Linked DNA regions of Homo sapiens. The protein of the gene in region 1 interacts with the protein of each later gene in a pairwise test. Each region holds a gene or a part of one and is shown in the gene's direction. Other genes may lie near its edges.

What was found. Proteins that work in one complex are often made in the same cells at the same time.
Region 2: the proteins of HOMEZ (region 1) and SH3RF2 interact in a two-hybrid assay, tested with the Homo sapiens proteins (2 studies listed by BioGRID).
Region 3: the proteins of HOMEZ (region 1) and LRRC7 interact in a two-hybrid assay, tested with the Homo sapiens proteins (2 studies listed by BioGRID).

The regions. Positions count from the first base shown.
Region 1 is NC_000014.9:23,271,883-23,276,134, reverse strand, and holds the end of HOMEZ (homeobox and leucine zipper protein Homez), read left to right. Parts: coding exon 1-560; 3' UTR 561-3,243; coding exon of another isoform or gene 3,244-3,312; 3' UTR 3,313-3,713; downstream 3,714-4,252. Other genes in the region: E3 ubiquitin-protein ligase RNF212B, read right to left, coding at 3,244-3,312. UniProt on the Homo sapiens protein: May function as a transcriptional regulator.
Region 2 is NC_000005.10:146,058,537-146,063,792, forward strand, and holds the end of SH3RF2 (E3 ubiquitin-protein ligase SH3RF2), read left to right. Parts: intron 1-1,329; coding exon 1,330-1,688; intron 1,689-3,889; coding exon 3,890-4,165; 3' UTR 4,166-4,756; downstream 4,757-5,256. UniProt on the Homo sapiens protein: Has E3 ubiquitin-protein ligase activity. Acts as an anti-apoptotic regulator of the JNK pathway by ubiquitinating and promoting the degradation of SH3RF1, a scaffold protein that is required for pro-apoptotic JNK activation.
Region 3 is NC_000001.11:70,137,881-70,144,864, forward strand, and holds the end of LRRC7 (leucine-rich repeat-containing protein 7), read left to right. Parts: 3' UTR 1-6,484; downstream 6,485-6,984.

The DNA.
Region 1 (4,252 bases):
AAGAGCAGCTGGCTATCCTTAAATCCTTTTTTTTACAGTGCCAGTGGGCACGGCGTGAGGATTACCAAAAGTTAGAACAGATCACTGGTTTACCTCGGCCTGAGATCATTCAGTGGTTTGGTGACACACGCTATGCCTTGAAGCATGGGCAACTAAAGTGGTTTCGGGACAACGCAGTACCTGGTGCCCCTAGTTTCCAAGACCCAGCAATTCCTACACCACCACCATCAACCCGCTCCTTGAACGAAAGGGCTGAGACACCACCTCTGCCGATCCCTCCACCCCCACCGGATATACAACCCTTGGAGAGGTACTGGGCAGCCCACCAACAGCTACGGGAAACTGATATCCCTCAATTGAGTCAGGCATCAAGGCTTAGCACCCAGCAGGTGCTGGATTGGTTTGACTCTCGATTACCTCAGCCAGCTGAGGTGGTAGTTTGTCTAGATGAAGAAGAGGAAGAGGAGGAGGAAGAACTGCCAGAAGATGATGAGGAAGAGGAGGAGGAGGAGGAGGAAGATGATGATGATGATGATGATGATGTGATCATACAAGACTGAGTGGGGAGCTGGGGGAGGGGAGGTCTGTTACTGAAAGATGAACCAACTTAGTAACTGTTTAAACAAAGAAACCACATTTTTAAAATTACCTTGTGGCAGAGAACTAAAAAGCTTTGTGTTCTTCAGGGTGGGTGGCAGGGGGATATAGTGAGGGTGGACCAGGGAGAATGACCATAGGGCACTAAGTAAGGCTGGGATTGGATCAGCAGAAATCCAACCCTCTAACCTTAGGGTAGGGAGTGCTAAGGATCTGGGGAAACCATGGGCTGGGAAGCTGCTCTTGCTCTCCTCGTGTCTGCTGTTTTTTTCCCTTGGTGTACTATACAGAGGCCAGATGTTGGCACCACCTCTCCAGGAGGATTGGAAAGGAGGAGTAAAGGATTCTGATTTGATTGATGATTCCAGTGCATCCCCAATCCCACCATCTTACCTGGAATATAAGGCTGCCTTGTACCCCTTTTCTGAGCACAAGTCTGTGCGTAATGCAACTGACTCTCTTACTTTTTTCTTAGTAACTGATCATTTCCTAGACAACCAAGATTCTCAATAAGTCCCAGTCTCATCACAAATATTAATATTTCCTTTTCCTCATACCAACTTGACTATGTTTCACCCGCTTCATGACTAAATCACAGGTGGCAGAATTTTTCAGTTCTTTTTTTTTTTTTTGAGGTGGAGTCTTGCTCTGTCGCCCAGGCTGTAGTGCAATGGCGCAATCTCAGCTCACTGCAAGCTCCGCCTCCCAGGTTCATGCCATTCTCCTGCCTCAGCCTCCCGAGTAGCTGGGACTACAGGCACCTGCCACCACACCCGGCTACTTTTTTATATTTTTAGTAGAGACGGGTTTCATCATGTTAGCCAGGATGGTCTTGATCTCCTGACCTCATGATCCGCCCACCTTGGCCTCCCAAAGTGCTGGGATTATAGGCATGAGCCACCGTGCCCGGCTATTTTCAGTTCTTATGCTGTGACCACTTTGCCTTGTAGCTTTTTCTATCTTTCCAAAATCCTCACTCTGTTCATTGTTTGTCTCAGGGAAAATCTTCCCCCACCGAGCTTGTAAAAAACTTTAATAATTGGGTGGAGAATAATTTAGAATGGATATTTATTGGAGGTGGTAATTAGGGAAGATGTCCTTTTAAACAGTAGAATTGTGTTACAAAGGGGTGAAAGAGAGGGAATAGTTTCTCCTTGTTGAAGGGCAGTGAAGGTAGGTTTCAGGTTTGGTTTTACAAACCTGTTAACTACCTCCTGTCCAGCTTGACAGAGACTAATTTTTCATCTTTTTGCTGTCAATTTGTTTCCAGAAAAGAGACTTTTCCCTCTCTTGATAGGATCTGTCTTAGGGACAGAGGGACCATCGTCTTTAAGTGAATTAATTATTGATGTTTTAGAATGGTTTTCATCAGTTGGGATCAGCTATATGGCAAATAGGTATCATCAATGAGTTAACCATCTAAAAATAAAAGAGTGGAAGCCCTAAAATGCTAGAATAATAATAAAAAGGCCAAAAATAAAATTGTTTCTCTCTCAACCACTTTGCCACTCCTATGGTTTAGGGATTAATGGAACCAAATCCATTAACATTCTAACTCAGCATACTTTTAACTTATTGTTTGGAGGGGCAGGACTTATTGAGGTAAATTAAAAGAACAAAAACTGTAAAAAGGAAGTAGTTCAGCATCTATCGCCAGCCAGGTTGTTTCTCAGCCATCAAATGATAATGACTAAAATTTCTGAGGCTTCAGGAGTAACAGAGATACAACAGTCTTGGAGGTAACTCCATTTGCTACAGGACAGGCCCTTGCCTAAAAGAGAAGGTATCTAGAAATGCCTTTAAAATAAATTCAGAGTACCAGAAAGGGTATGGGGATCCTAGTTCAGATACAAGATCATTCCCAAGACCTAATTTATTTCTGGCAGATGCCTGCTATTTTCTGTTTTTCCAGTATTTTTGCTTAAGGCCAGCTTGTGAGTGGCTAACCTATTTAATTCGTCATTTCTGCCTTTTAAAACCCAAAGTAGAATACATGTTTGATCTCAGTGATAGTGTTGTTCGCCCATTCCACCATTCTAGAGCTTGTAAAAGTGATAGAATTGTAGCAATAAAAGGGCATCGTCTTTATTTTACTATCTATATACTAAGCTGAAAATCAGTGTCTCCAACAGTTGTTTTCAATAGAAAGGAAAATTAACATTTAATAGTAACTAAGCATAGAGGAAATAATAGACAAATAAAAAAGTATAATAAGGAAAAGAACAGAGATATTGCTCGTTAACATTGGCAATGGGACAGTATATCCAAAGCTAAAAATGAAATCCAGAAATGAAACAGTGATGAGTATATGATCCATCACAATCCCCATTCCCAACTCCCAACCAAGCATGATGCCAAGAATTATTTTTTTGACCTTTGTTCCAAATTGTAGGAAATGAGGGGAGCTACCAGTGTCTTCTGGAAGAGATATAAACATCTTCCTGAAGCACTAGCCTTTTGTAAGACCTGACCACTGTCCTGGGAGGTGATAAGGGTGAATAGGGTAAAGATGGGGGGAGCATAAGGTACAGAGTGAAACTAGGAAACAATGCAGGGATACATTTTCCAGGGCCATCACCCCTAATGCGTACTGGAAGCTACAGTCCATCCTTCAGCAGCATGTATAGATCAGATCTTGAAGATGATCTATCTAGAAGTGGTCCATGCTTCTCTCCCACTGGGTAATCCCATATGCCTCCGTTGTTGGTAGAGAGTCTGCAGCAGAGGACAAGAAGGTAGATGTGGGTGTTTATAACAGCAAAAAGGGCAAGCAAGTCTCTCTGACCTGTTGTATGAAGCTTATCGAGACAGACACCACTGCTTTTGCTTCCCCATAGTTTTCTTCATTGCATGATAACTAACTTTTCCAAACTAGGATTTGCTACATCTAGTGTGACAATCTCTGGAACATTTCAGTAGCTTATGGTGATAATAATAAGGATGAATATTTGAAAATTAAACTATTTTGGAAAATCTGGGACATATGACTACCACACCCAGAGATGACTACCAGGGAGGCAGAGTTCTTAGGCCTCTGAGGAGGTGGCATTTCCTTCAATAACTTTAAAATTTTTTCACATTTTCGGTTGTTTGTTTGTTTGTTTGTTTGTTGTTTTTTTGAGATGGAGTCTCGCTCTGTCACCCAGGCTGGAGTGCAGTGGTGCATCTCCGCTTACTGCAAGCTCCGCCTCCCGGGTTCACGCCATTCTCCTGCCTCAGCCTCCCACGTAGCTGGGACTACAGGCGCCCGCCACCATGCCCGGCTAATTTTTTGTACTTTTTTTAGTATAGACGGGGTTTCACCATGTTAGCCAGGATGGTCTCGATCTCCTGACCTCATAATCCGCCCGCCTCGGCCTCCCAAAGTGCTGGGATTACAGGCATGAGCCACCACGCCTGGCCCACATTTTCAAAAAATACATAGAATAGTATAATGAACTCATGTGCCCATTGTCCATCTTTAACAAATAATTAATGGCCAATCTTTTATTTCTACTCTCCCAGTGTCCCTCCCTACTAAATTACACTGATGCAAACGCCAGACATCATTTGACTTTCCATCCATAAATACTTTAGTATGTACCTATAAAAGAGAAAGGCTATTTTTAAAAACATAACTACGATATCATCATACCAAAAAACTCTCCAATGTTAA
Region 2 (5,256 bases), on another chromosome or scaffold:
TAAGAAGTCACGATGCAGACGTGGCCTTGGCTCAGACCCTCTGTGCTGGACACAAATGACTTTGATTCAAACTCAAGTCCTTGGAGTGTCACAAAGGACTAACAACGCTGGCTGGGACAAAACCTACAGCTTCTCTAAATGCTGAGGGGCCCCTATGGAGAAATGGCCCAGTGTGTTTCTCATGGGTGTCTCCTCCACTTCCCCACAGAATGCAATGAACTCCTGATTCCCCAGGTCACCTACAGGATATATGTCCAATGGATGGGGATCTCCTGCCTTCCAGAGAATTTGAGGGGAAGAAATGACCTTTTCCTGAGACAGGACCATCTCAATTTAAAAAAAAAAAAAAAAGGAAAAGAAAAACAATGAGCTCAGGAAGGGACAAAACCAAGCTCTTGGACCTTGCATTTTTAGGATATGTGATCCTTTACCCAAAAATAATGATAGCTAACAGACATGCGGCATTTATCATATTCCAGGCACTATCCTGATACTTTGCACACCAAATAGAATGCAATCCTCACAGCAGCCCAATGATGTACTGTTATTATCTCCAGCTTACAAACGAGAGAACTGAGGTGCAGAGAGGTGACGTGACTTAACTCATCCCAGGCTTTCCAGGAGGAGGTCTGATTCCAGATCCTCTGTCATGAGACATTGCAAAGCCCATCCTCACAGCCCTAACTGTGGAATAACCTTTCCAAATTTGCCTTTGTCTGCTGTTGTGCTTGCCTAGCCCTTGCCACTCACCCTTTCTCCCTGCAGCCCCCGACAAAAAGCAACCCCCACCTGCCACATGCCTAAAGCTTCTGTCAAGATTTTCACAGCAAGTCGCTGGGCAGAGTTTTCCTCTCTCCTCCTCTCTTTCTCCTTTTCCTCTCTCTCATTCTTCTCGGTTGCCTCTCCTTTGTGTTTCTCAATGTCTTCTATTTCCTATCTCTGATTCTGTCATGTGTTTCCTATTTGGTCTGACTGCCTCTGTGTCTGCTTCACGCGCGCGTGTGTGTGTGTACGTGTGTGTGTGCGTGTGTGTGTGTGTATCACAAGGCAAATGGAAGCAATATACCTTCTGACAGCCCCCCTACACACATACACACATACACACTCACACACACCATTCAGCCAGAGAGATATTTGCTGCCAGCATCAGCAAACAGCACTAAAAAAAGAATAAGGTCACCTTTGAAAGACCCGGAGAGAATGTGAGTGCAGTCAGATTAGGAAAGCGCTTGTCTATTCTGGGATATCAGGAAGCACTGCTTACCCAGCCCCACCCAACCTACTGCCAGCCGCCCCTGCTGCTGATCTCTCTGTCCTATAATTCCCCAGATGGATCCCTGCAGAGACCCCTCCAGTCCGGGATCCCCACTCTCGTGGTAGGCTCCCTCAGACGCAGCCCCACCATGGTCCTTCGGCCTCAGCAGTTCCAATTCTACCAGCCACAGGGGATCCCCTCCTCCCCCTCAGCCGTGGTGGTGGAGATGGGGTCCAAGCCTGCCCTCACGGGGGAGCCCGCCCTCACGTGCATCAGCAGGGGCAGTGAGGCCTGGATCCACTCCGCGGCCAGCTCCCTCATTATGGAAGACAAAGAAATCCCCATCAAGAGTGAGCCTCTGCCAAAACCGCCCGCATCTGCCCCACCATCCATCCTGGTGAAACCAGAAAACTCAAGAAATGGCATCGAAAAGGTAGGATCAGAGTGACATTGGGGGCCCAACTCTTTCGATCCCGTACTATGCATAGTGTCTCAGCTCAGAGATTTTAGTGTTGGTGAACAAGGAACCAAAATTGCAGCCTCGAAAGAATCCTCACACATAACACTCCTCCTCCCCAACTCCCCACTGAGCCATGGCCAACATCCCCAACATCACCCACGCCCTCCCTACATGTGTTACTGATTCGCCTTTATGTTTCCTGAATATTTTATACATCTTTTGAGGCCCAAAAGTGGCTTGAAAAAAAAGCATGACTTTGGCATTAGATGAATCTTGCTTTGAATTCTAGCTTTGCTGCTTGCTAGCTGGGTGACTTTGGTCAAAATACTTCACCCTTCTGAGTCACTTAGTTTGCATAATCTGTAAAATGGAGGTAGAAAGAGTAATGGCCACACAGTAATGGAGTGGAGATTAAACGAGATATGTGAAGTGCTTACATAGGGTTTGACACATAATTATGCATTGTATAAAAGGGGCAACTGAGGCACAGGATAATGTAAGTGACATCGAGGTCACACTGAATGATAATGACTCCAACTACCTTATTGTGACCTCTGTGGCAGACGTCAGATCTGTTAACTTCTAGTCCAGGATATTTCCCACTAGAAGACGTGAGAGTTTTTGTAAAAGGCTTATGTTCTCAATAATATCCTTGAAGCAGGAGGAATAGTGGGAAGAGAGGACAGTAAGAAAGTTAGGTGATGCTTATTGCTGTCTTAATTTATGAACATCACCATCATCACATCATCGCCATCACCACCTCCATCACCACCGCCATCAGCATCATTCCACCATCATCGTCCATTCCCCTCAGAACGGAAAGAGGATGCGATTCCCCCATTGGTTAACCAGTTATCGAATACTAACAAGCTGGCAGGCACTGTGCTGAGTACTTCATGTGTCCCATATATTTAATCCTGACAACAACCCTCTCAAATAGGCATTAGTTTCATCCTCATTTTAAAATTAGGAAATGGCAGCTCAGGGAGTTAAAGAACATTACCCAAGACCGCACAGTTGACACATACGTGTGGAGTAGAATCCAGATCTGATGCAAAACTCATGCTCTTACTGCTAAGCTATCAGCTCATAGGGAAAGGTATTGGAAAAAGCACTGACATATATAAAGGTTGGGAGTTCTTATTCTGAATTATAGAAATAATTCAGAGTTTTCTAGGCCCCAGTTGCCCATTACTCCAAGCTTTTAGATACAACTATAAGCATTTCATAAATGCCCAGACCTTGGCTAGATATTAGGAGGATCAGAACGTATGAAGAAACTCAGATCTTAGTGGGGGATACTAGGGTTGCATTACATGGAAGAAAGACATCATTCCTGAGCAGTACCACAGAACGCTTTATTAGGCCCTGAGATAGAGACTGGCTAAAGCAAATACTGTACCTATGGGTGCCTAGCAGATATATAACAGGCTAGGAGATGTGAAAGGAAAGAGGAAGAGGGGGAATTGGCATAAACTGGAGACCTTGCATCTCATATAAAGGGGGCACTGCTTCTCAGGTCCAGCCAGCTGTTGTCAGAATGAGCCATAGGCCCAGTGCGTCAGAGCTTTGATTTTTTTTTTAAGAGACATATGAAATTCTGATTTTTATATGCAATCTCCCAATTTTTATGTGTTGGCGAGTCGATCAAACCCTCAAACATTCTGCAGGCTAAATTCAGCCAGCAGGTGTCCAGTTTGCAAACTGTGCTCTAAGGATTTATAAGGCCATTATGGAAATCTCTAAATGGAGTCATCAGGAGAGTGGCCTCAAAGAAAAGGAAAAACTTGAGATTGGCCTTAATAGTACGTAGAGAGGAGAGAGGCAAGGTAAATTTCTTTAATCTTCCAGAAGGGATCATACCCTCTTGCCTCAGGCTGTTTTTATAGGCGGCGGCCTACCCTATTTCTCCCAGATAAGTCCTAATCCTTTTGTGGTTCTCAATTTAAAGCTTCTGGGAAGACTTCCCTGGCTTCTCCACTTCCAGCTGAAGTTAGATGCTCCTCTGCATTCTCAGCATCTTGTACTTCCCCCATCTTAGCACTTGACACTCATGGTAGCCACAGATATTTGCAGAATGAACACATAAATGAGACATTTCAAGTGGGGACAAGCATGGGGAAATAGACATCTCCCACCTCACCTGTGTCCATTTCCTCTCCTTTCTCTTGCAGCAAGTCAAAACCGTGAGATTTCAGAATTACAGCCCTCCTCCCACCAAACATTACACCTCCCATCCCACCTCCGGAAAGCCTGAACAGCCAGCCACCCTCAAGGCGTCCCAGCCTGAAGCAGCGTCCTTGGGCCCAGAGATGACCGTCCTATTTGCCCACCGAAGTGGCTGCCACTCCGGACAGCAGACAGACCTCCGGAGAAAGTCAGCTCTTGGCAAGGCCACAACCCTGGTGTCCACTGCCTCAGGCACGCAGACCGTGTTTCCCAGCAAATGAACCTACGGGTGGCTTTTCCTAGACCCCAAAGAGGTGAATTGCATTTAAATACAGTCTGCCTCCACTGAGGGCATCCTGCCATTCTTTGGGGACTTGAGCATGGGTCCTTGTTCTTCCTATTTCACCTCCAGGAAAGCAAAAGTGGGAGCAGAAATTCCTGCCCTGGGTGGGAGGATAGATGGCGTGGCCTTCCAAACATACAAACATAATGATTTGATGCCACAAAGCTCGCTTACTCAGACCAAGGAGTGAAAAATTGTCGTGCCCACTTTATGCCCCAGCATGGAGTATGTGGCCTCTTGTCATCCCCGTGTTACTGTGTAGAATTTCTATGGTGTCCTAAAGGGGGCTGCAGCAGGGGTGTGACAACGGTGGGATTGTTGGCGTTGCTTCTTTGACCTTACAATATCCTCAACAAGCATTAGAACAACTTCTGCCATCTTCTGGGGCCTGTACACTGGCCACTAGTAGCTGCCATATCTTTTTCCCTCTGTAAAGTCATAATCCTGGCTGCAAAGGGAGGATTTCTGCGCGGGGTGTGAGGTGGATACTTTGAACATTCTGAGAACCCAATAAAACTAGAAGGAGCCAGCTTCCTGAGTATGCTCCACTTAAGAAGGTCAGAGAGATCACTGAGTACCAAATATCAAAGGATTATCATACTTTAAGCTTCTCGATCCATTTTCCCACATATAATCCTATGCAATAGATAAGCAGAAAGCATGTGGCTGTGGATAGGGCCATGTATGGCATTATGGACAATTAATTCATCCTGGCTCTACAGTCTGACTTCAAGAAAACACAGCGTGCTTACAAACAATCTTATATGGGGTTAGGGTTTAGATATATAGTCTGACTTCAAGAAAGCACAACGTGGGCCAGGTGCAGTGGCTCATGCCTATAATCCTGGCACTTTGGTAGGCCGAGGTGGGCAGACCACTTGAGGTCAGGAGTTTGAGACCAGCCTGGCCAACATGATCAAACCCCATCTCTACTAAAAATACAAAAATTAGCCAGGCATGATGGCGCACACCTGTAATCCCAGCTACTCTTGAGGCCGAGGCATGAAAATAGCTTGAACCCGGGAGGCG
Region 3 (6,984 bases), on another chromosome or scaffold:
ATTACACCAGCAAGAGAATATTAATAGTCCATATGGCTTTATTTCCAACAAAATCCCAGAGTTTTTGCTTGCTCTTTGAGGTTAAAATCAAAGATTTTTCACTCAGGATTAGCCTAGATGTAGAACAGCGACTGTATAATAAAGTTGAGTTCAAAAAGTGTATGAATTCAGTTATGGTCTGGAAAATTAGCTGCCATTTTGTGATGAAGTGTTTGGTTTTTCCTTGTAGAAACTTAGTGTCATTGCGCATCAACTTAGAAAATGTGAATTGATTAAAAATATGTGATGGATTGTGCAGCATGCTTACATTTGAAAATGGAGATTGTGCCTTTAAATACTTAATCAAAGGACTCCTGACCTTCAAGTACCAGTTTGGGCATATTACTGGAGATCCAGGTTGAAAGGTATTGAAAAAAAAGCTCTGTATCTTTGTATATTCAGTTGTCAACATGGAGAAGCCACCTTTTAAAAAAGATCAGTTCTGTAAAGCATAATGCCTACTACACAGACATCATTATTCTACTTAAAAGTCTTTTTTTAAAATTCCAAATACTTGTGGTAGTAGAAAGCAATAAATATTCTAAAATGAGGGATATTGGTCCTTTTGTGACTGAGCTATATGATAAACTAAGGAAAACTACAGAAGTTATGTCTATTAACTCTTTAAGGTACATGATATAGCAAATAATCATTTGTACAACCTCATAGAAAGTTGAGAGGATTAATCAAATTGTTTCAAAATTTTTAAGGAGCCAAATTTAAATTCTCAATACCCTATGAGATTTTTTAAACTATTTTAGATTCTTACCAGAAGAATGCATAGATGTAGTAAAACCATTAAATACAGTAGTATCTGGTGGCCTTTCTGTGTGGAGGAGCTCGTTTGTCCAAGGTATGATCTACCAGTGAGAAGATCAGTGCCAGGTCACAGAAAAAGCTAATCATTTTTAGTTTAATCCTGACCAGCTAGTCTTCCTCCAGGCATCAGCTACCTGATTTTAAAGAGACCATATTAGAAATGAAAAGCAGCAGTCTCTATCATATGTTAAATTCAAAGGCATAGCTGCTCGTGAAGACCCTATTATGTTTTATTTGCCTATCGGAGAAAGAGATCTGCCTACCTGCCTTTAGGAAAAAGCAATGCTTTATGTAGCTTCAATTAGTCCTGCATCAGGTTATTCTAATGCTTCCTACTGCAAAAACCAAGCCCACAAGTCTCCAATCCTAAAAGTCACTAGAATATTGATATAAGGAATTCTGTGTCAGCAGTATCTCAGTATTCAAACCTCTGTTTAGGGTCCTGCATGTACTATCAAACAGCAAGTGATAGAACATTCAGGCGTTTTATTGGATTTCAGAATTCAGATTCAGAATTAAGTACTCTTGGGATAAAGGAAATTAACGAGCTTTTGACATTTCAAGAACTCATTGAGATTGTCAAAGGCTTCAGTAATGAACTCTAACAAATAGATCCAGAAGTCATAAGTGAGAAAGAAAACAAGCATGTCTAGTGAAATCTGTCCAGTGTACGTAACACTGCACAAAGAGCATATTTTATTCAGACCATTTGGATTCAGATGTACCCTAAAGACAACTATGCTATAATGGCTTGTCTCCTACTTCCTGGCCTCTAGCCCTACCCATTGCCCAGGTGGACGTTATGTTTTTAGTTTTTCCTTTGTGGGTGAGGGAAGAAGAGGACATCAGGTGAAGTGTGCCATTACTATTTGAAAACTAGCTCTGCAGGAAGGGTTAAATCAAATCCTTTACAGGGTGACCTTCCTACATCTCCTTAGAGCAACTGCATTTCAAAATAGGCCAAAGCTGAAGTCATAGGAATGAGACATTAATTGTAGGTTTTCAGGAAAGCTTCGGAGACACGGCAGGTACAGTCTCCTTAGAGCCTTTGAAAATACAACATGTAGGTCCTTCTCAGATTATGCTGAAACTCCAAATCCTTGTTAAAGGTTTTCCTGGACTCCTACAGTCTGGTTTGATCAGTTTATTATTAAGTACTGAATGACAGAGAAGGGTACACAGGGAGGACTTGTATCACATGAAGTAAAATAATTATTTCCTTAATGAGAAACTTAATTCTAGGGTACTTACAATAGCTGCCTTATTGGGGGAAGGGAGGCATAGATTTGCAAATGGTGGGTTTTTTCGTTTTTTTGTGTGTTGGAGTAATTGAAAAGATACATCAAGCAATAATAAACTAGATGTGCAATAATCTTGTCGAGTAGTATGTGCTGGTTTTGGAAAGGTGAAAAGAAAATTGTTACATCAGGCTGCTTTTATCAAGCTAAGCATGGGCATGCCTTTCCAAAGGGTATATTTGATCCTACAGTTAATTTTAACATTGGGCTGCAAGCTTAACCTCATCAGGAGTGGAATTAGATTTTACAAAGTTCCCCTTATCCAAACTACAGCACGCTTACTACTTTCTCCTTCCATTTTCCACACCTCAGCCCCCTAGGACCAGCTACTGGTAAGTCATTTTGTCCATTTTCATTGATCTGGCCACATAAGGAACATCCTGTTTCTTTAAATCCTCAATGCTTAAATTGCCATGTAGAAATCAACTCCCTATCAATTTTCTACATTTAATCCTTGGCTTCTTGTCATATTTTCATTTTTCTGCACTGGTTCCCATGGCAACAAGTCTGTTGGCAGAGAAAGTATGACTCTGCTTTTAGCCTTCTGCACAAGACAAAATCCTTCTGGTGATCCTCAGGCAAGTATAATATAAAAAGTCAGGAATTGACTACAGTTCCCTTGGCTAATGCCTCTAATCCTTTACTCTCTTGCATGCATTTTCCACCTTATTCCCAAACCAGGCTTGAGAAAAAAAGCATTCAAGGGCCCTGCCCAGTATCTCTTTACTGATACAAGTATTCAAAGGCCCTCCTATCCAATCACAGCCACAAAGACTGAATATTTTGGTTCAGATGGCTTTCCCTTCTCCCTAAGTGTCAGTGACTTAACTGACATAAATGCATAATTAATGACAAGGACCACTGGGAGCAGCATCGAGAAGCAACTTTCAGTCATTTTTCTATAAACAACTTTCCTCAGTTCGCAACTGAGGTGTAGCCCAGGGAATAAGTATGTCCTGAATTGAGCCTTAAATCAGTGACTAATAAGGCAATGGAACACTCAAGCAGATTTTCCTCTAATGAGTAGTTAAGTGGCACAGGAGGAGAGGCCAAGGAGTCATCCCAGAGTTCTAAGCTCATAAAGAGGAAGAGATAACAAAAGATGTAGATAAGAGGACATTGTTAACTGGTGGCTGCAAATGAGCAAGGGAGCTTCATTCAGTTGGGACAATTCAGGGTTCAGGTACGAAAAGGGTATGAAGCCTACTGAAAAATAAGGAAATGGAGCATGGAGAAAGAAAGGGTTTTTAAGAGTTAAGTCAGTAGAAAGGGAGCCTGCAAATGAGACAATAGCTTCATGCAGACTTTGGCCCAACTCTGTCTACAAATACTTTTGCAAATAATGTTTCTCTTAATAAAATGATATATTTTGTTTTGAACTTTGGAATTCCATTGTGGCTTGGCACTAAATTATAGGCCTAGCAATCCTAAATCTCCTATGTCCTCAATATCTAGAAACAAGCAGGAACTGTTTGTCAGAAATTAAACAGGACTTATTTGAATGTGCTTTAAAAAAAAAATCAATGAATTCAGGGGAATGAAAATACATGTTAGAAATTAAAATGTGGTTATCTCAGCTATAGTTAAGAAAATTATCAAATGTAAATGATCCCTTTTTTGCTGGATCTTATAAAATATGTGATACTTAAGTACACTGAAGTTTTAAAGTTAGCTGCTTATATTGTACAAAGATATTTTTGGCTCTTTAAAGGTTATTTTCCTATATTAAGAAAAGGTTTCTTATATTGAAAACTTTTATGGTGACTCAGGTTTTGTGTCTATGTATAGGCACACATAAATAGGAGGTGTTTTTCTTTGCACATTTGTTTTGCACAGCTAAAATAATGAGGTTAAATAATGCCCAGGTATGCAGGTCAATTGACCTTTTTAATAGCTTAACGAAAGCATTTGACAAATGGACAAAAGAAATCACATTGTATTTCTTTGTATCTCTCCATTCCTCTTACCCTTCCCCAACCCTCTACTAAAGAATATTTCTTATTTAGTCAGGAAATCTTATGTAATATTTTTGGACGGTCCATAGGAAAAGCAAGATGAAACTCTCAGGCAGACAACATAAAGCAGCTCCCATATCTGCTAGAAAGGTCATTAATTTTCAGAATATATTGTTGAAATAATTTTTATTTTCAATACTTGTAGTCTTTCCACTCAGAGGACTCTTATTTGGCTTGAATGTGGAAAAGGCATCTGGTTCAGGTCAGTAAGGACTGTTGTATGTAAGTTTTACTCTAGAAAATTTGGTTTTAGCTTTGATGACACCTAGCGTCAGTGGAATGCAATGAATGCTTAATACTTCGGCTTTATAATGTTTGGGCATTTCTCTTTAACATCCTCAAATACACTTTCATCCTTGAAAACACAAGCCTATTTTCTGTTTGAAATGAAGAGAAAGGTAATTGACAGATAAACAGATAGTTTTTGTTTGAAGAGCCAATCAAGTTTCTCTTTGTACTCAGTAGGGACTAAAGGAAGCTTAAGGATAATGACATTGTCTTCATATGAAGAAGAAATTTTTTACTAGTGGAAAATTAGAAGTAAATCTACCAAATTCTGTTTGTAAATTTTAAAGACCACCACAAAAGACCTTGAAAAAAGTGAAACTACTGCAAGATTACTGTTGCTTATTGAAAGTAATAATACAGTTTTATTTTTTCCACTTTATAACTGCCCAAGGGCTCCCCCAACCAGCTATATATAAGAAAACCATAACATGAACTAGGGTCTTTCTATTCAAAAAAGAAATATTAAACTAACATAAGCAATTCTGAAGGAAGACAGTGGTAGGTTTTCAGATGGTTTGTTAAGAATTATATGTAAAAGGATACTAGATATTATGTTTTGGATGTTTTCTAAGTATCTATGAAAATTATTTTTTCCTAAACGATTTCATAATTGATTACTTTTGACCTCAGTTATTTTGGGGCATAATCCTTTTACTACTCTATAAAGAAGTTCTACTTCTACCTATATGAATTTGTATTTTCCCATATGCCAAACACACACACATAAATTTTCTTTTTCTCATTTCAGCTCATATAATTCAGTTAGTGAAATATTTCACTCTTCTGTAAGTTTAAGAAAAATTCCTAAGCAGTGATACAACTTTGGGTCGCTATTTTAGTAAAATGAAGAGTCTCTAGACTTTTTTTTTTTTTTTAATGATCTCTGACTTCACTACCATATGTGCAGCACAACAGTGACATCTTAAGGCCAAGTAACCAGAGCTCCTTTAGCCAGAGAAAGAACTTGAATTGGGATCTGATTTCAAAGAAATCCCATTATATTATCAAGTCGTTTTCAAATTTACAATATTCGACTGGTAAAGAAAGTGCTTCTTTATGACTTCTTTTGCAGTCTTTGTGAACCTTTTAATGTGCAATAGTAAACATTGACATTTTACATAGACATATTGTATATTAATGCATGCATTTCACTGCATAGTTTATTGACACTACCCTTGTAAAGCTTTTATGGAAGAACCAACAAGCCACAGCAGTATAGCAAAAGAGGCTTAATCTTTATAAATTGGGGCCTTTTCTGTCTCTTTGCTAGCCTAGGTGGCTGTATACAAATTCGGGTGGGAGGGGGCAGGAAACACCTCTTCACATTTAAGGTTTTCTACTTGGGTGTACTCTAGCCAATTCAAAACAAATTGCTTACTTTAATAATACAATTTTACCATTTTATAAAAAAAATCAAATCACAACATGTTTAACTGAAATGGCTGTATTGTAATTAATATTTTGAGATAATTGTGATTTTGAGCTTAAATTATATATAAAAAATTGTCATTTTTGTATGTGTTAAAAAGACTACTATATCACAATTAAAAGTACTTTTTAGTTGAACTACATATTGATGTAAATAAAACTGAATGAAGACATATTTACTACTTTATTAACATAGATCGTGAATGTACTTACTGGTTTTTTTGCAGTATGAGACCATAACAACCTTGAAAGCTGCTTCATTTTATGTGCAAAGAAGTCCTATGAATCTATATTTTAAATTTACTGAACCAGTGAAATTAATTACTGTCAGTTAATTTGCAAATGCAAGCTGTATTCTCCAGTTTTATTTTATGTACTGACACTAATTGGTAAAGGTGTACAATGTGATTAGAATGCATTTTGAAGATGCTTTCTGTACAGATACAAAATACAGGGACTAAAATAATGCTGTGCAGTGTATAGCAGAGCCATTTTTCGGCTTTGGTGTACTCAACTTTTTCAGTATTTAAAAAAGTGTTTTGAATAACATAAAAGTCTCCTTATTGTATAAATAATAAAATGTCACCTTATTGTAAAGTGTCTTTTGTTTACTATCAAAGCAGACCTCGTAGTCAGCAACAGAGATGTAATAAGAAAAAGGCATGTTTTTGTTTTTATTTTTTATTTTTTTGAGATGGAGGAGTTTCACTCTTACCCAAGGCTGGAGTACAGAGTGGCGCGATCTCAGCACTCTGTCATCCTCTGCCTCCTGGGTTCAAGTGATTCTCCTGCCTCAGCCTCCCAAGATGCTGAGATTACAGGCACATGCACCATGCCCGGATAGTTTTTTTTGGTTTTGTTTTTTGTATTTTTAGTAGAGACGGGGGTTTCACCATGTTAGCCAGGCTGGTCTTGAACTCCTGACCTCAAGTGATCTGCCCGCCTCAGCCTCCCGAAGTGTTGGGATTACAGGCGTAAGCCACTGCCCCCAGCCAAAAAGGCATGTTTTTTTTAAAATGAAAACATAAACATTGTAATCAATATTTGAAAAATGTAACTTTTATTCTGAACATGTAGTATTTATCTTTATTAGCAAT